Regions from separate parts of the Homo sapiens genome. Here region 2 is linked to region 1. Evidence: fine-mapped expression QTL. A gene starts in region 1. The other region holds a variant in brackets. All regions are shown on one strand. Distances are between the middles of the regions. Region 1 holds the start of CARD19 (caspase recruitment domain family member 19). Region 2 holds the start of NINJ1 (ninjurin 1).

Region 1 (8,317 bases):
TTGACTGTGGGAGGAGACTACACAAGGGCATGACCTGGAATGTGAGGATTGCTGGGGCCACCTTGGAGGCTGGCAACCTCATAGGCATCCTCCGCCTCTTTCTTTGCCTGACTCATCTCCCTAGCTCTTACCAGATCAACATGCAGATGTGTGTTTGTGTCCTCTGGTAACAGGGAAGCTCCATGGGGGAGTGGAGCTTCCAGTCTTCCTTGTGATCCAGCTCTGGGTTGGGCCTATGTTTAGGAGATATTTGTTGAATGAATTAATGAGTGACTGAATGGATAAATGATGCTCCCTGGCCATGTGAGAATGTGGGAGGAGAATGTCCTTGCTCCTTGGTGTTCAGGCCCTTCATCACCTACCATCACCTCTTGGCCTGGTTACAGTCAGCTTCAGCCATGAAGGTCTCCCACAGCCCATGGGGGCCTCATGCCTCCTGCCCTGGCCTAGGAACACCCGTTCTTCAGCATCAGCCTCTCGGGGAGGCCACCCTGTCATCTTTATAGCATCTGTCCTTGCCCTCCTATCCTTAACCCTAATCATCAACAGAACTATCTGTGTGCATTCATTAAGTGCCTCCTGCATGCCAGCCTTTGTGGAGTGAACACTGCAGCACAGATGATGGTCAGTGGAGAAGCCATCATAGGGCAAGACTAGTGCTCTGAAGAACAGAGATGGGGGGTGGGGTGCAGTGGCGAGTGACGTGGTCCAGAAGGGCCAGACTCCAAGTGGGGGTGAGGATGCTAGACACAGAGCTGGGAAGAGCATTCTGGGTGGTCACAGCACACATGAAGATTTGTAAATGGCAGAGGTGGCTGCTGGAGGAACTGGAAGGCTGTGAGCCCGGGTGAGGGAGGAGGATGGTCAGACTCAGTGTTATGACCCCTGTGGCCACTATGTGGGTACTGGGCCATGGGGACAAGGATGGGGCAGGGAACCAGTGAGATGTGAGAAGGCGGCTGCCACCTTCCAGGCAAGACATAACAGGGATGGCGGTCACTGAGGTGGGAGCAGGGCTGGGCTTGGAAGGCAGAGCCCACAGGGTCAGGGTGCAGGTGAGCAGAGGCCTGAGGAATGGCTGGCCCTATGAAAACCAGGGGGAGTGCCCCCACCCAACCCAGTGCAAAGAACCCCTGTGGAAATTAGCTTTGCCTGTATAATTTTAAAATTGTGCCTGCTTTCTAATGAGATCAAGCATGTGATGGCAAGAAAATCTGAAAGAAGCAAATAGTAAGGTGGAGGCCGTTCAGAGGAGTGGGGGTGTGTGTGTGTCAGGGCTCTGGCTTCTGTGACGTTGACAAAGATTCTGTGCTTGACAAACTTTAGCCAGGGTCCTGAACTTTCTCCTTGGCCCATCTGTGAACTTCCTTGTAAAATCCAGTTTCAACAAAGAATCCTCCTAATGAGTTTGGCAAGAACTCCCCACCCTGGATACTTGATCACCCTTGATACCCAATCAGGGTGCTTACCCCCACCATCCCCTGGGTGAGGTCTCGTAAGCCCAGGCTGTCTTTGCAAGAATTCTGTCAGCCGGAATCCCCTTCACCCTGATGTTTCCTCTTCCTAATTTTCCATCCTCAAAGTCCCCTCCTGTCCCAAGTGTCCTTGCTGTATTTGGAATTGAGCCCAGTTCTCTGCTGATGTCTCTCTTCCCCTATCACAAGAGTCCCGAATAAAAATCTGTTTCTACATCTGTAACCACAGTCCAGCTCTGGTTTTTCTTTGACAGTGTCCAAGGGCGGGGCTTCCTGTCACACCTCACTTCACTCCTTCTAAGGGGCCCCTCCACCTTCCCAAGAACTCACTTTCCATTTGGGGTCCAGGCAGCCACAGCTGGCAAGAGCTAGCCCGGAGGGAGGATGCGTGTGCTATGCCTGGGGGAGGGGGAATGCCCAGGATCTGCCATTTGACCATGGGGTGCCCGTGCCTGCTTGCAGCCCCCGTGGTGGGCATCCAGGCTGTACACCCCTGGCTGCACCAGCAGCTGTCCTGCTTTCTGCCGCGGCCTTCCATCTCATAGGGTTGGAGGGCACATCCCAGAGGGCACAGGGCTTTCAGTCCCTGCATGCAGGCTTGGGTTCCTTTAAGTAAATCCTTTTCAAACCCTCAGGTGGCTGAGGAACAGCGACCTGTACTTGGGAGGCCACATCTGGCTGCTAGATTTTGGGCAAGGGGCTTCATGCTCCAAACCTCAGTTTCCCTGTTCATCACATGGCCAGGGGCAGTCCTGAGGGCGCAGAAGTGGATGTGAAGGTGGGATGCTACCTTTCCCAAAAGGGGCTGGGGTCAAGGTTCCCTGAAGGTGGGCAGTGCCTGGAGCCCCTGCAGTCCCCACTGTGTCCCCCTTCCACTCCGTCGCCACCCTTATGGCTCTGACATCACTCAGGGGCAGGAGTGTGTGCAAAATAAACCCAGAGAAGTAAGTACTACACGTCATAACAGTGTGATGGATGCAGAAGAATTGGGGTCAGGCTGCATCCCACTGGGGCAAAAGAGGCCCTCTGGGGAAGCCCCCTCTGGGTCCTCCAGGGGAGCACCTGGAGGCCAGAGCCAGCCTGGACTCACCCAGGCACACAAGCAGATGAGAGGCCTGCAGGGACCCACAGGCTGGTCCACTACCCTCCTGCCCTGGGACGGCCCTGTACATGGGCCTGGGGCAGGCTGGGTCTGATGGCAGCCTGGCCTCCTGGGGAGCATGGACGGGGCTCACCTTCAGTGTTTGGGGACAGGGGTGGCTGCTGTATAGTGACCATGACTGGGCCCCAAGAATTTTGAGGTTTCCAGGTGACAACTGCACCCATTCTCCTGATGCCCCCTATGCCGGCCCTGATGGGAGGTCATGGCACAGGGGAGAACTGAGGCAAAGAGACAGATGGCGCATGGACTGCAGGGACCACTGTGCTGTCCGAGAAGGGGACACTGAGTTGGGCCCCCATTCCGGGTCAGGCTCTGGCATCTCAAATTAGAGCTGCTATGGGGGAACGGCCCACACAGGCAGGGAAGGAAAGAGGAAGGGAAACTGCTGCTGCTGGCTGGGAGAGTGCTGCTATTCCTTCCTTCACGGGTCTCCACTTCCTGGCTGGGGCCCAGTGCATTCACATCATGTGGGGCTAGGAGCTTCTTGTGGCGGGCTCCGGAGCTGGAAATGCCAGGCCTACGAGAGGGAAAGCAGGAAGGAAAGCGGGAGGGAAGTGGAGTTGGCCCAAGGTCACTCATTTTACAGTCCAGGAAACTGAGGCTCAGGCAGGTTAAGTGACCTCTCTAGTTCGGGTCACACTGTCAAGCTAGTGTCTTCTTTTGAAGGTGGGGGACTGGGGTCCCCCAAGAAGGTGTCCCCCCCCCACCCCGCCGAGCGAGGTCACACCGTTGAGTCCTTCTCCCCTGGATTTGGGAAAGCATCACTGGGCACTGCCTCCTTTGGCTGGTCCCTGTGGCGTACTGGACGCCCACCGGCCTTTTGCCCCAGGCCTGGCCCTGTACTCCCCAGGGCCTGACTTTCTGTATGACGTTGGATCAGTCACGTCCCCTCTCAGTTTCAGTTTTCTCATCCAAGGGGTGGGGCGCGAGGCCGGGAGCGGGGAGGTGGACTGAGCCGGCCGGCGGGCCACCTGGATCCCGACTCCGCCACTCAACGCGGCAGGGCCCGGAAGGGCGGGCCCAAGACGGGCAGGGCTCCGGGCAGGAGCGGGCGCCTCCAGGGAGGCGCGCGGCGGTCGTAGCTGAGGCCGCCTTGAGGGCGGGACTTGGACGCGGGCAGGGCTCGAGTGAGAGGCGGGGTTAAAGGCCGCTGCGACGGCGTTATAGACGCCGGCGGGACCGGGGCCCAGCGAGGGGAGGGACTCTGGGCCCCTCGCGGCGTCTTAACTGACGCTGGGAGGGGCGGGAGTCCGGTGGCGCCCGCCCACGCCCGCAGTCGCCCGCCCACGCCCGCAGTCGCATGGCAGAGCAGGAAGGGGCGGGGCTCAGGGCCCCTGGAGGCGCGGAGGCCGACGACGGAGGGGGGCGGGGCTCGAGTAAGGGGCGGGGCCCGGTGGGGGGTTCCTTGAGGCTCGGAAGCCGTCGTCGGAGGGGGCGGGGTTCAGGTGCAGGGCGGGGCTCAGAACTCCGGGAGAGGCGGAAGCCGACGCCGGAGGGGGCGGGGCTCGAGTGAGGGGCAAGGCTCCAGGATCCTCGCAGCGGCCTATCCCAGGACGGCAAGGGGGCGGGACTCGAGTGAGAGGGGCGGAGTTTAGAGCCCTGGGGGAGCCGTAGCGGGCGCGGAAGGGGCGGGGCCTAACGGTAGGGGGCGGGGCTCGTCAAAGGGCGGGGTTTAGAGTCCCCGAGGCTACACAGCCAAAGCCGGGGGGCTGGCCTAGCCAAAAGGGGCGGGCGAGCACGGCCCGCGGGCGGCGTTCGCTGGAGCTGGTGGACCGGGCGGCTGACCGAGGGGCGGACGCGCGGCGGGGCAGACCGCTGGGGACTGCGGGCGGCGCTGTGTCCGTCGCCATGACAGGTGGGCACGGGGTCGGCTGGGCGGCAGGGATGCGGGCGCCCTGGATGGGTGGCCCGGCCCGGGGGTCCGGCTGCCTTGCGAGTCGCCTGCAGGCCGCGCCTGGGCAGCGGGGGCCGAGTGACCTTGGCCCGTCAGCTGTCGGTGGTGCGCGAGTGCACCCCCGCGAAGTGGTGGGTGTCCCGGGGCTTCTACCCGGCGGGGCCGTGCCAGCCGAGGCGGTGCCGGGCATGATGGGTGGTGGCCAGGTGCGGGGCCCGAAGAGGGCGGGGGCTACAAGGCAGCTCCAGGGTGGGGCTGCACAGCCGCGGTCTGGGCTCAGCCACTGCCAATGTGTGTGTGTCCCGTGGTGGGGAATTTGGTCTGAAAGAGTAGGAGGTGGTAGAAATGACACCGGAGAGAATTCACAGCGGTCCTGCTGTGATTCTGGCCACGGAAACAACGCTCCATCCTTACAACCACCCCAGCGAGGTCGCGGGACAGGCGATGCGTTCCTCGGCGGCATGTGATTCCTGTGGGACTCTTGGAGTCTCCCAGACTCCTTCGGTGGTCCACGACGCTCTTGCCCCTGTTTAGTTCTAAGAGAATCGGGGACAGCGACTGGACCCCCCAAGGTTGTTGTGCTCCACGCTAGTGGCCCCAGCCCAGCCTTCCTCCCCAGGGCCTCTCTGGTCTGGGGACCTGCCCACCATCCTCCTGATCCCAAACAGGGTGACTCTGCCCTGTGGACCTTCCCCTGTTGGAGAAGCCCCATGAGGGTGATGGGCTGGTAAGGGACCCCATGGCAGCCCGGCCAGGGAGTATGGGGGTTCCCAGAAGCTACACTTCATTCTTACTGTTCTGTTTCATGGAGCAGAATTGGCTCAGGGGCTCAGGGTAGCCCCAGAAGTCCCTAGTCCTCTCTCGGTGCTCGCTCTCTTGAGTCTCAGCCTAGGTCCTGCCCACAAATAGGATCTCATGGGCTGGAAACTGATGACTTCCAGGACACCAGGCCAGAAGAGACTTCCAGCCTAGGCCACAAGAGACCCCAGCTGCCACCTGCTCCCCTTTGTCCTCCCTTCTAACTCTTCTTATTTGTGGCTCTCATTTCTGAGCACTTACTGTGCATTGGACCCTGTGTTGGGTGATTCCTGTTTGAAAATGATCAGATGGGGACACCTGGAATATCTCGTCTGTGTACAGATGGGGAAACAAAGTCTTAAATTGTGCCCTGCCCAGGCTGGGATTCCGTAATTCCCTTAGTGAGTTCATCAGAATGCGTGGGACACAACTCAGAGCTGTGTTGGTCTCCAGGGAGCCCTGTCCCAGGGACTGGGTGTTGGCAGAGCCTGAGGCCTTGCTGTCCATTAAGGAGCCTTCCTGCACAAAGGGACTTTGTCCCTTTCTGCCTGTCAGGGAAGCTTCCTTGCATAAGGGGACCCTGGAGCTGGGAAACCACATCAGGCAGGGGTCCCTGAAGGCTCTGACTATAGGCCTCACCTTGTCCAGTGTATGCTTCCTACCTGCTATGTCTACTCACTGGGCCTGGAGACATTCCCTCACAACCCTTAGTTTTTGGGATGGGGAACCAAGGCCCATGGAGCACAGCTCTGGGAGGGTCATATGGACAGCCCTGCGAGGCTGCAGACCCATAGTCCCAGGCTCACTGCCTCCATGCACCAACTGGGGTCCTGCCTTGCGCCAGCCCTCGCTGTGAGCAGCGCATGTGAGCCAGTGCCTGCAGAACGCTGAGGAGGTGTCTGCGTGGGGCAGGTGCTTGACAAGTTACCCCCTGGGCTGTGCCGGGGAGTGAGCAGTTTTAGTTGGGCTGAGCACTGAGAGAAGGGGTTTCCTGGAAGAAATTCGGGAGAGGAGGTTGATGCCCAAGTGTCTGGACTCCAGTTGGTTGGGGATGACAGGAACTCAGGAAGGCCTTTTGCACGTAGAACAGCAAGGTGAACATGAATTAACCAGGTGGAAACCAAGGAACAGGTATTCTCAGCCTGGGCTGAGATGTCTTGTGGGCCTAGAGGGCCCGGTGAGAGTGGGTGGGGCCAGCTCCCACGGGGCCTTGAATGCCAGGCTGAGGGCATCAGTCTGGGCTGATAAGAAGGTTCATATTGGGGTGTTTGAATGGGGGTCCATAGTCCTGGTGCCAGCCTGGCAAGAAGGAAGGGGATGTAGGGCGTGGTGAAGGCTTGCCAGGTCTGTGCCAGAGCGAGCCATCTTCCTTTGTCCTGTAAAAACAGTTCAGGGACTTGTTTATCGGGAGCTGGCACTGAGATGGTTTCCCTTCTTGTGCCTTTTCTGGCTTCCAAGTGCTGCCTGTTTGTGTGCACAACTCGCAACCACAGGAAGCACAGGACCCCCAAGCCGCAGAGCCTGGCTTCAGCCTCCGGACCGTGCGGCCTGTGCCAGCTGACTCACGGCTCATGGTGACTCATGGCTCTGCAGCAGCGGAGGCTCTGCCTGGTTAGCGGCTTGCAGGGCAGGAGGAAGCCACTACAGGATGCTGGCCACGGTCCACCTACAGCCCTTGCCCCTGGGTCTTGGACCATACATTGCAGAACTCTTTTTTTTTTTTTTTTTTTGAGACAGAGTCTCATTCTGTCACCCAAGCTGGAGTGCAGTGGTGCAATCTTGGCTCACTGCAACCTCTGCCTCCTGGGTTCAAGGAATTCTTCTGCCTTAGCCTCCTGAGTAGCTGGCTCAGCCTTCTGAGTAGCTGGGAATACAGGCGTGTGCCAGCATGACCAGCTAATTTTTTTTGTATTTTTAGTAGAGATGGGGTTTCACCATGTTGCCCAGGCTGGTCTTGAACTCCTGACCTCATGATCCATCTGCCTCGGCCTCCCAAAGTGCTGGGATTATAGGCGTGAGCCACCGCGTCCGGCCTGCAGAACTCTTTAGTGAGCACCTACTGGGTGCTCAGCCAAGTGGGCAATGCTGGAGAGGACAGCCTTGGGCGTGCTTTTGGACTGGCAGGGAGTAGACTGCTGTAGCTGATTACAGTGAATTTCCATGTTAATTAGAGAGGCAGAACGTCTGAATATCAAGAGGTGGTCCTCAACATGGCTGTGCCTGGGCCTGGATCTTGATCTGTCACTTCATATCTGGTTGCAGTCTTGGGCAGGTACCTTATCTTCTCACTGTGCCTTAGTTTCCCTACCTGAAAATGGGGCTGGTGGTTGTCCTTATGTTGCAAAGCTGTTGGAAGGATGAAGGTTGTAGGTGACGTAGGGCTCACAGAGTGCCAGACATATGGGATTGCTCTGTGAATTTTGGCTAATTCATCTTAGTTCTTTAACGAGAGGGCTGCAGGCGCTGGACCCAGACTGCCCAGCTGGGCCTGTCCATGTGGCCTTGGCAGGTCACTTGACGTCCCTGTGCTCAGCTTCCTCACCATGATGGGGCTGCTGGCAAGTCCGCATAGGCTGCTGTGGGACTCAGTGCAGGTGAGGGCTGAGCCAGCCTTTCCAGCCCCCAGCCATCTGCCTCCCTGCGCGGCCCACGGTGAGTGGCTTCAGCCAGATGATGGAGTGGCTGATGGCCTCAATGTGGGCATCATCAGGGGCCCTGTGAACCAGGATGGCCCCCCTATTGTTCTCTGGAGGGCAGGTATCTCTGGGGTTAAGGATACGTTTGTGGGTTTGCTTGGTGAATGCCAGCCCGCACCCCTACACTGTGAGCCCCTGGAGGATGGATCTGCCCATCACCGTGGTCCCCAGCCCCGCACAGGGCGAGCGTACTGAGACGGGCTGTTCTCACCTGGGCCTCAGTCTGTAGGGTCTGCACAGGGCCCCACGGAGCATGGCTGCTTTTGGGGTGGGTCCACATTCTGGGGTACAG
Region 2 (8,317 bases), 34 kb after region 1:
TTGGGAGACTGAGGCTGTTGGATCACTTGAGCTCAAAAATTCGACTGGGCAACATGGCGTAACCTCATCTCTACAAAAAATACAAAAATTAGCCGGGCATGGTGATGAGCGCCTGTAATCCCAGTTACTTTGGGGGCTGAGGTGGGAGGATCGCTTGAGCCCAGGAGATGCAGCTTGCAGTGAGCCGAGACTGCGCCACTGCATTCCAGCCTGGGTGACAGAGGGGGACCTTGTTTCAAAAAACAAAACAAAACAAAACAAAAACCAAAGTGCAGGGTGGGGGGAGGGGGGGTGCCACTTCCTGGACTGCATGTCTGGGTGATGAGGGCCAGGAACTCGGCAGCTCCTTGAGAGCCAAGTGTGCAAGGTGGTGGGCACCTGTCCCAGGCGATGCGAGCAGATGCCAGCAAGGTGAGCAGGTGGCCTGGCTGCCCCCACCTGGGGACCTACCAAGGAAGATGAGCAGCACCCCCACGCCGATCTGCAGCACAAGGGAGATGGAGATGAGGACCACCAGGGGCACATAGAAGGCGAAGCTGGGGCCCTGTTCCACGACGGCCTTCAGCTGGGACGCGTTGGCCATCAGCAGCGCGATGTCCAGCATGCTCTCGGCTGCGCTCTTCTTGCTGGCGTAATGGTTCACGTTGATGGGCCCGTGCCTCCAGCCCCAGCGGGCCGGCTGCAGGGAGGGGAATGGTCAGCAAGGCGGGTGGGGGAGGGGGGCAAGGGCTGTGCCTGAGTCGGGCTCTGGGGGTCACCGGGCCCTGCAGGTGAGGGCTTCCCTTGCCCCCACCCCTGGTAAGTGCTCAGACAGAAGTGCTTATTACCCTAAGGAGAGGCTGCGAGCATGTGCTCAGCCTTTATAAAACCTCCCCTAGGAATACGGTCCTGGAGAGAAAGGAAACGACATAGCAACCTTAGCACACGCACTCTGATTTTCCACTGGAAAGCATTGCCCGATCCTCCCACTCCTGCCATAGGCGGGGCTGCTCCTCCCTGCCTGCCCCTACCGGTCTGTGCCCCCGGCCTCCTCTCCCCCTCCCCTCAGAGTCTGAGCTCCTGATGCCAGGAAAGGAAGTGACGTGTGGGCGGACAGATCTGTGCACACCGGCCCAGGCAAGAAGCAAGTCCTCCTGGGCCGGACCTAAGGGCAGAGATCGCCCCTGCCACCTCCCAACCTCCCAGCCTTGGGGCCCAACAGGCCACTCGCCTCCAGGCCTCAGCACAGGCCTTGCAGAACTATTCGGCCATTAGCAGCAAGACTTCACTGAGGTGGGCCACCCAGAGCCCGGCCCCGACACAGCAGAGGCTCAACAGATGCCTCAGCATACGACATACAGTGGAGCTTAGCTTCCACATTACTTCCCAGAGTAATAAAATGGGAATGCGAGTTCTGATGGAATCCTCTTTGCCTTAGGGGCCTATCTGGTCAGGGCCCCCTGCAGTTCTCTCGAAGCCCCCAATGCCTTTCCCTGGTGCCAGACACTCTCAAGCTCCAAGGCCCCACACAGAGGCCACTGCTTCCAGGAAGCCTCCCAGGACTTCCCCTGGCAGGACATGGCCCTCTCTCCTGCCACAGGAAGGTCCTCTCTAGGGCTGGCCCTTCATTCCAAGCTAAGTACCAAACTTCCTCTTTCTCTGGAGCAAGAGTCTGCCCCTCTCAAGCTGCCCTGGTGGGGCCCTCTTCAGTCACTCAGGACAAACCTGCCAGCCCCTTGGCCCGGCCCTTTGTCCACAGGCGCCCCTGAGTTGCCAGGCCCTAGACCACAGCCTCCCAGGACTGGTCACCTGCTTGGAGGCAGCTGTGAGAACCCACTGCTGGCAGCCAACCTCCTGGGGCCCTCTCTGGGAGATCCTGTTTCCAGACTCATGAAAGATGCAGGCCGGGAGGCCGGGGTGCCGCAGGGCCACAGGGAGGGGCGGACATGGTATCCATCCAGGCCTCGACTTTCTGCAGGCTGGAAAAATACACGAGGCAGCCAATACAGAACCAGCAGAGGGCAGGGGCCTTGCTTTCATGCTGCGTGTTTTTCAGTTTCATCTAAAATTATGTGCCCAGGAGGAAGAGAGTGGGCGTCAGGGGACACTGGTGGGCTCTGCTGCTTACACCTGGGCCTGGGAATTCCAACAACCTGCCTTCAGCATCAGCTGCTCTCTAAGTAGCAAGTTCACGTGGACACATGTGCGCACAGGGACAGCCGCCTTTACCTGGGCCACCCAGCAGCGCTGTCCCTGGGGCCCTGGTGTGCTCTCGGGTCACTCCATGCATACCCCGAAGCCTCTATGGGGTGTCTACTTTGCCTCTCCCACCCTGGGCCTGACGCTGCACTCCCTGGGATTCCCCCAGGCCCCAGCACAGCCAGGGCACTCACCAAGTGAGAGGCTGTGTTCCTCTCCCATTCTACAGACCAGCAGATTGCAGCTTGGAGGAGGTTTGCCCAGAGCCACCTCCCAGGACTGTGTGTCCCTGTCCCACCACTGTCCACTTAGGGGCTTCCTCCCAGGCTGCCCAGGGTCTGGGTGAGGACAGCCCGGACACAAGGGCCTGTGCCTGGCACTGAGGTCGTCTCCAGTTCTGCTCTTGCGAAGCTGCCCAGTGGGCCACACCCCATCACACGTGTGCTCCGCAAGGTGCAGTGTCCCAGGGGCTGCTGGCCACAGTGGGCATGTGCTCCTAAGTTTCACAAACCTCAAGTGCCAAAGTGCCTTCCTTCAAGGCCACCCTTATGCTCATTCGGGTCTCCATCCCAGGACTTGGTGCTGGGAGAAGGCCAAGTGCAGACCCCGTGAGGATTTCCACCTTCTGGGGGCATCTACACATATATGTGCGTGTTCCTAGTCACAAAAGCACAGAAACACACATCCCCCAGAAAGACACACATAGACGTGAGACACACATGTGCACACAATACGCACACACAAATACACATGCACATACATACATATGCACACGTACATAAACAGACACACAAGCCCAGGCTAACTGTGTTGGCCTCTGGGCAGGAGGAAGAATTCCCTTTTTTTCTGAGCTCTGCAGAACCATTTAAATATTTCACAGCCATGCAGTCACGAGGAACACTCAGATCCATTAAAAAGCACCATCCGCGCAGAGCCTCCAGCTCCCCAAGCCTCAGCTCTCAGCACCCCCAGCCACGAGGAGCCTGTGCCCCTGCTGTCCTCATGCCCACTTAAGGTGGGTAAACTGAAGCCCAGCAAAGGCGGTTCCTTACCCAAAGCCACATAGCAAGTGAGGGCTTGGCTAGGATTTGAACCCAGGCCCCGGGGCTCAGAAGCTCTGGTAGCTGATGCCATTGTCCCTTAGGGGCTGAACTCTCAATGGCTCCCTGCTTCAGGCTCCAGCTGTGTCCGGACAACTAGCCCCACTTTGTGCCTCAGTCTTCCATGTGTACCACGAGGCTGTGGAGCAGATGCCCCAGGATGGCCTCTGAGCCCCGAGTGGCCAGCAAATGCCCTGACCATGCACCCCTGCTGGTGAAGGGCACTTCCAGCCCATCCGGCCATCTGCTTCCTGTCCAACCTGCAGCTAGGGAAGCTTCTGCATGCAGGTCAAGCCCTGGCTCACCACAGCCCAGCCCGTGGCCCTGACGCAAGCTCCCCCTCCGTTGGCCTCAGTCTCCCCCTCCGTATATCTAGGGTTGCACCTGGGAAACTCCTGCTTACCAAGGGAGAGGCTGTGTTCCTCTCCCATTCTACAGACCAGCAGATTGCAGCTCAGAGGAGGTTTTCCCAGAGCCATCTCCCAGGACTGTGTGTCCCAAAGCATAGGGCTGCCCCAGGATACAGCATAGCTGGCAACCACCCCAGGCAGCAGGCCACATTGGGAGCATCATGTGGAGGGGAGGGCAGCAGGGACAGTCTGCTTCCCTGTCCCTAACCTTGGTACTCTGGGCCTTGGAGCCCTGAGCTGACCACCACACAGGAGGGTCCCAGGGAGGACGATCCCACTCTCCCCCAGTCCTGGGCACTTGCCTCTATCTTGGGATGGGCCTGAGGGTGGCCGGGGGACCCAGCTACCACAGGTGAGGGAGCCCTGTGGTCCTGACCAGCCAGCAGGAGCTGCCAGGAGCTAAGCCCTGCTGAGACCAGTGCCCATGGCTTGGGCAGGGCAGGGAATAAACACCCTGGTTAATAGATTCCCAGAACCTCAGCAGCACTCGGGGCCTGGGGCCAGGCCAGATATATTTCCTCTGAAAGCTAGGAGGGAGGCTTGGTGAGGAGGTCAGCTCTGTGTAGGGGCGTGGCTGGCTCCTCATGCAACCTTCTGTGGACGGTCGGCCTCCCCACTGCAGGCTGCACATGTTGGGGCTGGGCCACACGGTCGGTCCTAGGGCCACTTCAGTGAGCATCCTCAGCTCAGGCAGGAGGGGCTGGCACAGAAGTGGGATATGAACCAGGCTTGCTGCATCCACCGGCCTGGCTCTGGCCATAGCATAATGGGTGTTCTGGCTCACCCAGGGCTTGGA[T/C]GGGAGGAGACAGGGTCGGGGCTGTGGGCCCACAAATGTGGTGATGCATATCAGTCGCCCTTTCCAGGGGCCTGTGAGGAGTAGGGCTGGAAGCTGCCACAGCACCTCCTTTACCCCCCGAGTCCTGCCTCAACACTGACCACTCTATGCCTCAGTTTCCTCATTTGTAAAATGGGTAGACAAGGATGTGGAGGGGACTGAATGGGGTGGTCTCAGATGCCCCGTGGCTGGTGGAGCGCATGGCAGTGGGTGGCAGGGCTGTTTTCCTTGATGCCTGGCTCTCACTGTTTTGAAAGACTCTGCCTCCCCGACCAACTCCACTGACTCAAAAGCAGCTGAACAGGCTCACAAAACAGTCACACAGCAAAGAAAGGACAGCCTGGGGCACAGGTTCTCCTGTGCTGAGCAGGACCCAGGGGGACAACAGGGACGAGGTGCCTGCCCTGGGTGCCTGGGGGGTCCCAGTCTACACCTTGGCTGCTCGCAGCCTGTCCTGCTCACTGGCCCTAACCCTTGGACTCAGCAGGCATTGGCAGATGGTGGGGCGACCTGAAAATCAGGCACCCCTCTTCTACCCCACCATATGCTAGGACCTGCCTGGGGCTTCCGGCATCCCTTGTCTGACCCACCAGTGTGGGCATGAGCTGCTGTGCCCATTCCCCAGATGCCACACAGACAGGCAGGGCCTGGCACTGGAGCCCTGCACCGTCTCCTACCGGCCAGCCCAGGAAGCAGGCCCTGAGAGGGTCTCCCAGCTCCATGTCTGTGTTCCTGGCAGGAAACCCCAGCAAGACAGCAGGAAGTGCTGGAAGGCGGGGTTCCCACCACAGCTGGGCCAGGCAGACCCACTTCCCGCGGACTCAGCACTGGCCACGAGTGGCCCTGAGACCATGTTAGGGTTGCCTTTTAGAACTTGGCCCAGACCCTGCCGGCCTCAGGATCTGCCAGGAAAGCGGAAATGAGGAAACGAGCAAACCTCCTCCTGGGCAGCTGAGGCCATGCACGGCCCAGACGGCAGGTATACAGGGCACAGCTACCTACCTCCAAGGACCATGCCTCTCGGCCCAGATGTGGCCCCAGGAACCTTCAACCTGCGGGCTGTGAGGGGCAGGAAGGTGTGGCTGGCACCAGATGGCCGTGTCCTAACCCCATCCCCACCACCTCCCTGCCTTGAGACACCCTGGGGATAACAGATTCAGGCCATTTTCACATTAACATTGTTGTTTACTATTCCTTCTGCTGACAGCCACAAGTGAGCTGACTCAATCCCTGGACACTGATGGGGGCCCTCACATGAAGGGCCACAGGGGCGCAGGGCACACGGGGTAGGGGAGACCTGAGAGCTTCCCACGGCCGTGGCCCAACAGAGCCCACCCAGGTTGGAGTTCCACGTGTGGCTCCTCCCTGAGCCTTGTCCACCCTGGGAGGTGAGCAGTTGTGCCCCATTTTACAGAAAAGGAAACTGAGACTCTCCATTTTACAGAAAAGGAAACTGAGGGAGCTGGGCAAAGCGCTGCCCTCTCCAAACCACTGCCAGGGGTCACCAGTGGGAGAGGGTCTCCGTGGCAGGCAGAAGGATGAGGGCGCTGAGTGCTGGCCTGGCTCTAAGCACTTCATATACATCAGCTACTGAGTCCTCACCACTCTCTATGGCAGGCACCGCGACCACACCCATTTCACAGATGAGAAACTGAGGCACAGAGTGCTGACATGATGTGCCCAAGAAACGGAGAAGCAAGGTCTTGAGGTTGGGAAGAGGAACAGGTGTGTTGGGTGGTCCTGGGCCCCCAGGCTGGGTGAGCAGAGCGGCCCTCGAAGTTTTCTACCCCTCAAGGGGAAATGTGCTCATCCTCACACTGGCTCATAGCCTTTCCACAGCTCCCTGGACACCAGACCGTGATCAGGCCTGCAAGGCCCCTCCCATCGGCCTGGCTTCCCATCCCCCCACCTCCTACCTGGCCCTCATGTGCTCTGTGGTCCAGCCTCTGAGCCTTTGCTCCCACTGTTCCCTCTGCCTAGATGCCCTTCCACACATCTCAGAGAGCCAGATCTGCTCACCCACCTTCCCTGCCCTCCAGGGCTCAGAGCCAATGTCCCCACCTCCACAGAAAGCCTTCCCTGACCACCATGCCCCGCCCCCCACGATGGGCTCCCAGCCCCCAGGGAACCCCCTGCTTTGCCCTGGCCTCTCCTGCCCTGTCTGGGCTGGGCTGCTCTCCAACCGCGGCTTGGTGGGGCGGGGCTGTGTCTCTCTCCCTCTGGTGCCCAGAGCCAAGACAGTGATCCGGGAACAAATCCAACCCAATCTCCTCTGGGCTTGAGATGCACCCATCTCAGGAGGCACAGCCTATCCTGCCGCCCGCAGAAGTGAGCAGAGACTGCTCTGAGTGGAGGGCATTGCCCGGGCAAGGTCAGGGTTGGGGGAGGAGCAGTATCCCTTCCTTTCCAAGGCGCTTCCAAGCCACTGACCTGTTTATTACCTGACTTGCTTTCCCCACTTCCCTGAAGGCAGGAGAGACCCTTTGTTCTCTCTTTATAAGACCATGTCTAAAAGGCCCAGCGAGGTGTGGCAACTTCCCAAGGACACACAGCCGGAGGAGCCCCCTGCCTATTGCTCCAAAGTGCTCACACACTGGGGCAGGGCCAGGTCGCTGGGGTCCCGCACACCGGTCAAGTCCTGCAGTGCGACAGCTCCTCTCTAACCTAGGAACAAGTGTCCATGCAGCCCCAGGGCCATCCTATCCCGTGGCTCATGGGGCCCCGCCTCCCCGAACATGTCCTGTCCCCACAGCACCGGCCTAGGACTGTTCACCAGCGAGTGGGCAGAGTGTCTTTGCCCCAGTCTGGTCCACGCCATGGAGAGGCCTGGAAAAACCCAACAGGCTGCTGTTCCCTGCCCCCATCCCTGAGGGGGTTAGAAAAGGAAAGAATGTTCAAAGTAAACAAGTCACCAGAGGGCCATGCCAGGACCTTGCAACAAACACAAGGTGCTCAGTAAGTGCTGAGTCCTGGGATGAAGAATTCTGAAGCGGGACCACTACCAGGGCCTGCCCCCTGCCCACAGCCCTCCCAGGCCGGGCAGGGCAAGTTCTGGAGGGCCGGTGGCGGCATACACTGAAGGCTGTGTGACGTTTCTATTTCTCAAGGCAGGTGAGTGGAATAGGGACCACAGCGGGCCCCAAGTTCCCCCATCAAGGCACGCATCAGATTGTGTGGTCAGCGTGGGGTGACGTAACTGTCTGCATGCAGCTGGTCTGGAGCCCGGAGGCTGTGACTCCCCTCCGCCCGCCTCCGGGCAAAGTGCGCGGAGGAGCCGGCACGGCGAGGCTGAAGTTAGAGAGGCCCGCGCGAGAGTGGGGGGGAGGTCGGGAAAGCCGGGCGCCGGCAGTCCTTAGCCCGAGGAGCTGCGCCGAGGCCCCCTCCGCCGTGCAGCCAAGCGCGGGCGCTGCTTAGTGGGGCTGGGGACGCCAGCCCGCCCTGCGCCCCCACGCCCCCTCGTCCCGCCCACTTGCCGGGGGTGGCTGGAGCTCCCGGGGGCATCGTTCTGACCCTGATGGGGCGGGAAGGACTTGGCCTAGAGCGGGACGTCCCCCAACACTCTGCAGTGCGGACGCGGCGCACACAGGTGCCCGGGGAGCCGCGGCGCCCCGAAAGGACAGGGCCTGGCAAGATCATGCAGCGGTGGGGGGAAGGTCTTACCGAGGCGTCCGGGGAGCCGGGTGTGCCCGGAGGCAGGCCGCCGTTGAGCTCGTACTCCTCGGTTCCCGAGTCCATGGTGCGGCCGCCCAGGCCGCCAGGATCCGGGCCTGAGCGCGCCCGAGCCTCAGCCGCAG

Evidence for each region. PIP is the estimated chance that this variant, and not a neighbour inherited with it, causes the effect.
Region 2: its variant is fine-mapped to the expression of CARD19 in lymphoblastoid cells (TwinsUK, PIP 0.95).

What each region holds. Positions count from the first base shown.
Region 1 is chr9:93,091,861-93,100,177 of GRCh38, forward strand. It overlaps CARD19 (caspase recruitment domain family member 19), which reads left to right and starts at 4,357. Exons shown (of 6, transcript NM_032310.5): 1 at 4,357-4,492. The coding sequence starts at 4,486. LOC101927993 (a long non-coding RNA gene) reads right to left here and starts at 3,650. Exons shown (of 4, transcript NR_188444.1): 1 at 3,508-3,650; 2 at 2,711-3,154; 3 at 132-233. RefSeq lists enhancers at 3,345-3,394, 6,588-6,657 and silencers at 3,505-3,814, 3,835-4,584, 4,605-4,714.
Region 2 is chr9:93,125,960-93,134,276 of GRCh38, forward strand. NINJ1 (ninjurin 1) reads right to left here and starts at 8,292. Exons shown (of 4, transcript NM_004148.4): 1 at 8,184-8,292; 2 at 451-679. The coding sequence starts at 8,258. It overlaps LOC124902212 (a long non-coding RNA gene), which reads left to right and starts at 7,053. Exons shown (of 3, transcript XR_007061665.1): 1 at 7,053-7,634. RefSeq lists enhancers at 724-1,375, 2,133-2,192, 4,819-5,417, 5,418-6,015, 7,497-7,546 and silencers at 7,837-8,086, 8,257-8,317. The variant T/C (reference allele first, on the strand shown) is at 4,485.